2 linked regions of the Homo sapiens genome follow. The protein of the gene in region 1 interacts with the protein of each later gene in a pairwise test. Each region holds a gene or a part of one and is shown on either strand. Other genes may lie near its edges.

Evidence for each region. The genes of interacting proteins can lie anywhere in the genome.
Region 2: the proteins of CD53 (region 1) and VSTM1 interact in binary tests that used the Homo sapiens proteins (3 or more experiments, as listed by UniProt).

The regions. Positions count from the first base shown.
Region 1 is NC_000001.11:110,893,648-110,897,147, reverse strand, and holds part of CD53 (leukocyte surface antigen CD53), read right to left. Parts: intron 2,822-3,500; coding exon 2,747-2,821; intron 2,189-2,746; coding exon 2,093-2,188; intron 496-2,092; coding exon 415-495; intron 1-414. UniProt on the Homo sapiens protein: Structural component of specialized membrane microdomains known as tetraspanin-enriched microdomains (TERMs), which act as platforms for receptor clustering and signaling.
Region 2 is NC_000019.10:54,045,942-54,050,397, reverse strand, and holds part of VSTM1 (V-set and transmembrane domain-containing protein 1 isoform 1 precursor), read left to right. Parts: intron 1-1,994; exon of another isoform or gene 1,995-2,083; intron 2,084-4,456.

The DNA of each region.
Region 1 (3,500 bases):
TCCCTAAGGGGCTGGATTCTGCCATCTCCAAGGAAGAAGAGCAGAGAAAGAGGGAGAGGGAGAAACTTTTCTATCTCAACCCTATACATTTCACTTTAACCATAAGGAGACCTACTTCTTGCTTAAGAAATATCTAGACACAACCCTCTCCTACTTTCACACAAAAGTAACTGTTCCCCTCTAATGTAATAGTCTAGTGTAGCAAGATCAATCACAGTGTCTCTAGTCTAAATGAGTTTGTTTGTATGTTTTTCTGACTTTTCTAATTACCCAAGGTTGTTGCCCTGGCCTCTCTTTTATTCAAGGTCCCCTGTTTCTCAATAGAAGGTCTAGGTCCTCTATGACTGCAGTTTCCGAGGTAATTAAACATTTAAACAAAGAGGTCAATAACAGAAACATTGCCGACAAAATTACCTCCACTTTTCGATCTGAGGGGCAAGATGCTGGTGGGCCACTGGTCCAATCACTCGTGCCATTTATACCACAACACTGCAGCTAAAAGCCAAACCCCCAAAATGATGATGGTTAGAAAGTCAACAGTGAAAAAAAGCTGTGGACCTTAGAGGAAAAGGTGTGCCCTTCAGATCTGACTCTATAGCAGAAGTCCAGAATTGGTCTGATTGCTATGGGCTCCTTAAAACAAAGTGCTTTCTAATCTGTTATACCATTTCATTCACATAAGATCCCTGTGGAGTAGAGACCCCTGTGCTTAATCTAGTCACATTTTACAGATCAAGAATAAGGCACCCAGGGACTGCATAATGGAGGGATTAGGCTGACCACCCCTGGACCCACCAACCAATCTTAAGATCACAGAAAGGAGGACCATCAGACATTATGTACCTGCTTACACGATGCAACAGGAAGTGACAGCTATGGCAGTCTTACCACAAAACAAAAACCACATCAAACTTTTAAGTTCATGGGGCTTATGGGAGACAGAGACTCCCTGATACCAAAATACTCGAGGAAGCAACTAGCCTGATCTAGAGAGTGGAGAAGTCTAAAGGACAAATAGCCTAATTTCTTTCCACAAAGAGCAAGAACAAAGAGGTGTACTATTATAGATTAAAAGATAAATAGAGAGACCTATCATTCAAATATAAACACATAGGCCTTGTTAAGATCTTGATTTGAACAAGTCAATTAAAATTTTTTGAGAAAATTAGGGAAATTTAATTATAGACTTTATTAGTGGTATTAAGAAATTATAAAATTTTAGGTGTATTAAAAAGAAGTTCTTTTATATTTAGTGGGTGAAATAATATATTGTCTAGTATTTGCTTTAACATATTCTAACGAAAAAAGTGTGGGGAATTAGATGAGATGACACTGGAAAATGTTAACTATTGAAGAGTTGGGAGATTCATTTTTCTGTTTTTCTCTTTTGTATATTTCTAAAAATTATGTAATAAAAAGTTTTCTAAACTGAATTAAAAAAATAAAGAATTGGAGATCTAAATAAGTTAAGTGACTTCCCCAGGGCTACCCAATTCTGGTCTCCAGGCTCTAATTCCTGTGCCATTTCTTCTACTCCACACTAAGCCAGCGTGCTTTCATAGTGGTACTGTTTCGAGACACAAATAGATTATACTGGTGCAAGGCTCCATCTTTATCTCCCAACACATCATGTCAGGAATGCAGAGCTTGTATATGCTGTACATATACACGTTTGTGGGTGGAAACAGCACATGAGGAATGGGATGTTGGTGGGCTAGGTAACAAGCCTGATTTGGGCAACTCGGGAACTCAATGGCAATTTCTTGTGTTATACAATGCTGTTTTCAGTAAAATTTTGGAAAATACATAAACTAATCCAGTTTGCTGTGTTTGGGTCTTCTTCACATCCTAGCAGAACTTAGAAAATAAACCTATTCATGTTAGAAAAGGATGAAAGAGAGAATGTAGAGAACTTTGTACTAATCAGACTAATTACTGGGCTCCCATGTTTGTGATAGCCAAGGCATTATTCTGGGATTCAGGGATGTGGACCTTAGATTCTGAAACTTCCAGAAAAAGGAACTAGCCCCCAAGGATTTAGGCTTGAAAATGAAGTCTGGGCTGATCTGAAGAGGATTCCACCTGTACTCACAAATGACTGGATGGAGTCCCACGCTGCCTTGGTGCTATTGTCTGAGTGGTAACGGTGGATGCTGTCGGTCAGACCCTTAGCCACATACTCATTCAGCTGGGCAGGCACATTCCAGCAGAGGAGACATGGTAAAAAGCAGGTGAGTTCAAGGAATAAGGAATTTCCAGTATAGGTTAGTGGTTCCACTTGCGCTTCCCTTCCAAATGGTCTCCTCAGAACTAAGGGTGAGGGGAGGGTGTTTATCTATGGGCATACAGGCTGAGCATGAGGTGGCATTGAAGGAAGAAGTATTTAGTAGGCTTGCTTCCTTCTAGAGCTCTGGCTTTACAAGGGAGGAAAAGGAGCAATTAAAGCAAGGGCTATCCTTAGGCACTGAGGCAGACATTCTCTCCTGCCAAACACACAGAGGAAAGCAAGTAGAGGAAGAGACACTTGTTTTACTGCTCTTTCCAGGCACCCCTCAAGATACCACTCAGATACAATCTCTTTCATACAAATTTTCCCCCCAATTACAATTACTCTCTGTTTCCTCTATCCTTCCACTTCATTTCTATCTCTATTATAGAACTTATTCTGTAACTTTGTACCAACTTCTCCACTGCATACTCCCCACTTTCAGTATTAAGACAATAAGTTGTTGTCTTTATAACTTACCTTCTGTTCATATACAAAGAGCAGGATGGCCAAGGTCACCTCAGCAAGGAGGATAATCAGCAGCAGGATGAAGAACTGGGACAAAGCAGATACATTCTCACAGCACTGATCCCCATTCTCGTCCCACTCCCACTCAGCTCTGGGAGCATCCAGGGGCATTTGCACGAGTACAGGGTGTTCCTGTTCTGCCTCCTCAGGCCGTTGTAAGCCTTCTTTTGTTTTGTGAAAATATGTGTTCTTTTTCTACAATTAGACTCTAGAGGGCAGATCAACTGTCTTCTTTGCTCTCTCCTACCTGCTGTGCCTATCAGAGCACTACATGCATAATACATACACACCACCACCTGTTGAATAAGTTAAGCAATTTTGACATCTGCCTATTGAAGCAGTTAAGCAAAAGGTTGGTAAACTAGATCATTTGGGGCCTGGTCCTTTCTACAAGATCAGGGATACCTCTGGGTGGAGGACTGCTGGTAGTGGCTGAGAGGAGCCCTGTACAATGGTAGAAAGAAGGGTCCTAGCCATGGTTCTAACTCATATTTGTTTCCAGCTTTCGATGCTTACTCCTTTTATGCTAATAACACACAACAGAAAACATTTTCACTTATTCCTTCTCCTTCACCTTTTTTACCCCAACATTAATTTTGACTGCTTAAAACATTTGCCTTACCCCATGTCTGCTATCTTCCATCCTTTGCCATTAGTCTGACAACTATCTGAGAAGAGGGACTTTTTAAAAAATTCTTTCTCTTGG
Region 2 (4,456 bases), on another chromosome or scaffold:
AAATAGGTGAATATTGAATTTTTTTTCTAATGTTGCTTATTCATTAACAATTGACTAAGATTCTGTCCTCAGAGTTTCTCATAAAAATTAGAGCTTTTGGGCCAGGCGAGGTGGCTCACATCTGTAATCCCAGCACTTTGGGAGGCCGAGGTGGGCGGATCACCTGAGGTCAGGAGTTCGAAACCAGCCTGGGCAACATGGTGAAACCCTGTCTCTACTAAAAATACAAAAATTTGCTGGGCATTGTGGTGGGCGCCTGTATTCCCAGCTACTCAAGTGACTGAGGCAGGAGAATTGCTTGAACCTGGGAGGCAGAGGTTGCAGTGAGCCGAGATTACACCACTGCCCTCCAGCCTGGGCAACAGAGTGAGACTCTGTCTCCAAAAAAAAAAAAAAAAAAAAAAAATTAAAAAGTTAGAGCTTTTGGCAGCATTCGGCTGAAACAGGAACTCATCCAGACTTTAAGGGCCAAATGCAGAATATAAATTGGCATCTAGATGCTTAATCATCCTTCCTTTCAGCAAGTCATAATCTTCCTGCAACCTACTCCAAAGAGCCAAAGTTGCTGAAGGTTGTTGCTAGCAGTCTGTGCTGGTATAATCGGTTTTCAAAAAGGTATCCTCCAAAGTGTTCTTGCAAGATAACTATTTGAAACGTTTTTATTCCATGATAGTAGGCTTGGGAAATGTCTGCTACCCTAGCACTACGAACACAATTCACGTCAGGAACGTTTTCTGAGAAAGATATGAAATCTAATGGGAGAGAGGAACACAGAAGTATCAGAAACGAGGTGGGAGATCTAGTGAGGTGTGAGGGGGAGGAGGAAGAGAAGCTTTTCTATTTTGAGCTCTTGTATCATTTATTTTCTTTCTTTTTTTATTGATATATAATTCACAGTCCAAAAATTCACCCTTGTAAAGTGTCCAATTCACTGGCATTTTGTATCTTCATGAGGTAGTATAACCATCACCACTACATAATTCCAGAACATTCTCATCACCCTAAAAGAAAATCTTGTACCCATTAAGCAGTCACTCCTCATTTCCCACTTTCCCACCAGGCCCTTCCAACCATTCATATGCTTCTCTGTGTCTATGATTTTGTCTATTCTGGACATTTTGTGTAAGTGGATTCATACACTATGTGATCCTTTGTGACTAGCTCCTTTCTCTTTAGCATAATGTTTTCAAAGTTTGTCTGTACTGTAGCATGCATCAATGTTTCATTTCTTGTCATGGTGAAAAGCATCGTATTGTATGGATAGACCACATTTTGCTTATCCATTCTTTTTTTTGTTTTTGTTTTTGTTTTTTTGAGACGGAGTCTTGCTCTGTCGCCCAGGCTGGAGTGCAGTGGCACAATCTCAGCTCACTGCAACCTCCGCCTCCCAGGTTTAAGTGATTCTTTTGCCTTAACCTCCTGAGTAGCTGGACCTACAGGCGCCCGTCACCATGCCTAGCTAATTTGTGTATTTTTAGTAGAGAGGGGGTTTCACCATGTTGGCTAGGCTGGTCTCGAACTCCTGACCTCAGGTGATCCACACGCCTCAGCTTCCCAAAGTGCTGGGATTACAGACTTGAGCTACTGTGCCTGGCCCCGTTCTTCTTTTGATGGACATTTGTGTTGTCTGCACCTCTTGGCTAAAGCGAGTAATGGTGCTGGAACACTGTGGTAGGAGTATCTGTTTGTCTCCGCGCTGTAAATTATCTTGAGTATGTACCTAGAAGTGGATTTGCTAGGACATATGGTGACTATTATGTTCAACTTTTTGAGGAACTGCCAAATCATTTTCCATTGTGGCTGTATCATGTTATATTCCTTCCAGTAATATATGTGGGTTCCAATATCTCCACATCCTTGTCAACACTTACTTTTCTTTTTTTAAATTATAGCCATCCCAGTGGGTATTATATAATTTCTTAAAATGTACTTTTTGAGTTCAAATTTGTATCATCACAATTCTAAACAGAATAAAATATCTTTGCCGGGCGCAGTGGCTCACGTCTGTAATACCAGGACTTTGGGAAGATGAGGCAGGAGGATCACTTGAGCCCAGGGGTTCAAGACCAGCCTGGACAACTTGGTAAGATCCCATCTCTACAAAAAATACAAAAATTAGCCAGGCGTGGTGGTGTGCACCTGTAGTCCCAGCTACTTGGGAGGCTCAGGCAGAAAGATCGTTTGCGCCCAGGAGGTTGAGGCTTCAGTGAACTGTGATTGCGCCACAGCACTCCAGCCTGGGTGACAGAGCGAGACCCTGTTTCAGTAAATAAATAAAATAAAAGTAAAATATCTGTAAGCACAGGTATGATGTCCCCAGCCTGTATTTATATGCCTAAAACACACTAGAAAACGACTCTATGTTCAATCGCAATGTAGAGAATGAAGATGAATTTTATCACACAAGACTTGACTTTCTTTCTGGTGCCTGTGCCTCCATTTATGCCCCGTGTCAGGCTGTATCTTGTTGCTCACGCTGACTTTAGTAGCGTAGCAAGTTATGATTTATTCTGGCAATTTGCAAATACTGATGCAACATTTGGCCAGGATCTGTGGACATCTCAGGGTGAACCCAGTTCAGCTGATTATGGGGTCATATGAAGATGAGAATTTTGCAATAATGTACTTCTCATTTCTAGTGAATTGCTGTGTGAAAGATACCGTAGGCTGGAAAAGGGGAGAACAGAAAGGACAAGGCAAGGCTGCTGTTTCTCTGCTTCCATCTGGGGAAACTGAGAGTCCAGGAGCAGCTGTTCCTGCCCTGTTTTCATAAGTCCTTGGAGATGCACTGATAGAATTGTTGCTTATGGCCAGGCATGGTGGCTTATGTAATCCCAGCACTTTGGGAGGCCAAAGTGGGCAGAACACTTGAGCTCTGGAGTTTGAGACCAGCCTAACCAACATGGTGAAACCTCATCTCTACTAGAAATATAAAAAATTAGCGGGGTGAGGTGGCGGGTGCTTGTAATCCCAGCTCCTTGGGAGGCTGAGGCAGGAGAATTGCTTGAACCCCAGAGGGGGAGGTTCCAAAGCCGAGATTGTACCACTGCACTCCAGCCTGGGAGACAGAGTGAGACTGTCTCAAAAAAAAAAAAATTGTTGCTTTTGAGGGGTTCTCTGATTCAGCTCCACCAGAAGCAGGCTCTTAGACAGCATTAGTGTGAAAGTGACGTTTTATTTTATTTATTATTTATTTAGTTTTGAGACAGAGTTTCGCTCTTGTTGCCCAGGCTGGAGTGCAATGGCGTGATCTTGGCTCACTGCAACCTCCGCCTACCAGGTTCAAGAGATTCTCCTGCCTCAGCCTCCCAAATAGCTGGGATTACAGGCATGCACCACCACACCCAGCTAATATTCTATTTTTAGTAGAGACGGGGTTTCTCCATGTTGGTCAGGCTGGTCTCGAACTCCTGACCTCAGGTGCTCTGCCTGCCTCGACCTCCCAAAGTGCTGGGATTACAGGTGTGAGCCACCACGCCTGGCTTGAAAATTACATTTTAGGGAGTGGGGAAGAAGGGCTGGGAGGAAAATAGATTAAACAAGTGTGGGATATCTGTGTCCCTCAGATGGTATCTTTGGCTCCATCCTGCAGAAAGCAGTGGAGACAGAGAAGGTCGAAGACCAGAGGCTAGGGAGCTGGGGTCCCCACAGCCGTCAGTGGCAGTTTGTCCCGGGCATGTAAATTCCAAGGCATTTGGAGTTCTCCCAGGCAGTCCCCCAAAGAAGAGATACAAATGTTCACTTTGGAAAGGGAAAGAAGCCACGATCTAGAATGCATAAAAATGGGAAAGGGATCTGGGGAACATGGGTTGAGGAACATTGACAGAATCTATTACAGAGAGAGATGGGTGTAGGTGGAATATTGGGTGAAAAAAAATCATCATTATACCTACAATCCCATTATCCGACACAATGAGTCAGTTTCTAGACTGAGCGCTTTAAAGCCAGGATTTTTCATCATTACCTAACTCTTCAAGTTAGATATTATTAGCTCTCTGCCCCCTCCTTATATTTAACCAAAAAATAACGTATTCCAGAAAGGGAAGGGAACATTTACAAAGTCAGGAGGTAGGAGACCCAGTACTAGAACTCAAATATGTCTTGTTTCAAACTCCCCACTCCTTTTGCTGCTCCCTGATGATCAGCTCAGAAAGAACCTTATTTCAGGGAGGGGGATAGATAGATAATTAGATGTGATAGATAATAGGCAAGTAGGCAGATAAATAGATAACTAGATATGATAGATTAGATAGATACATAGATGATAGGTAGATAAGTAGCTAGATACGATGGACAGATTAGATAGATAGACAGATGATAGGTAAGTAGGTAGATAGATAACTAGATACAACAGGTTAGATAAGTAAGTAGATAGATAACTAGATATGATAGATTAGATAGATAAATAGACGATAGGTAAGTAGGTAGATAGATACAGATAGATTAGCTAGCTAGC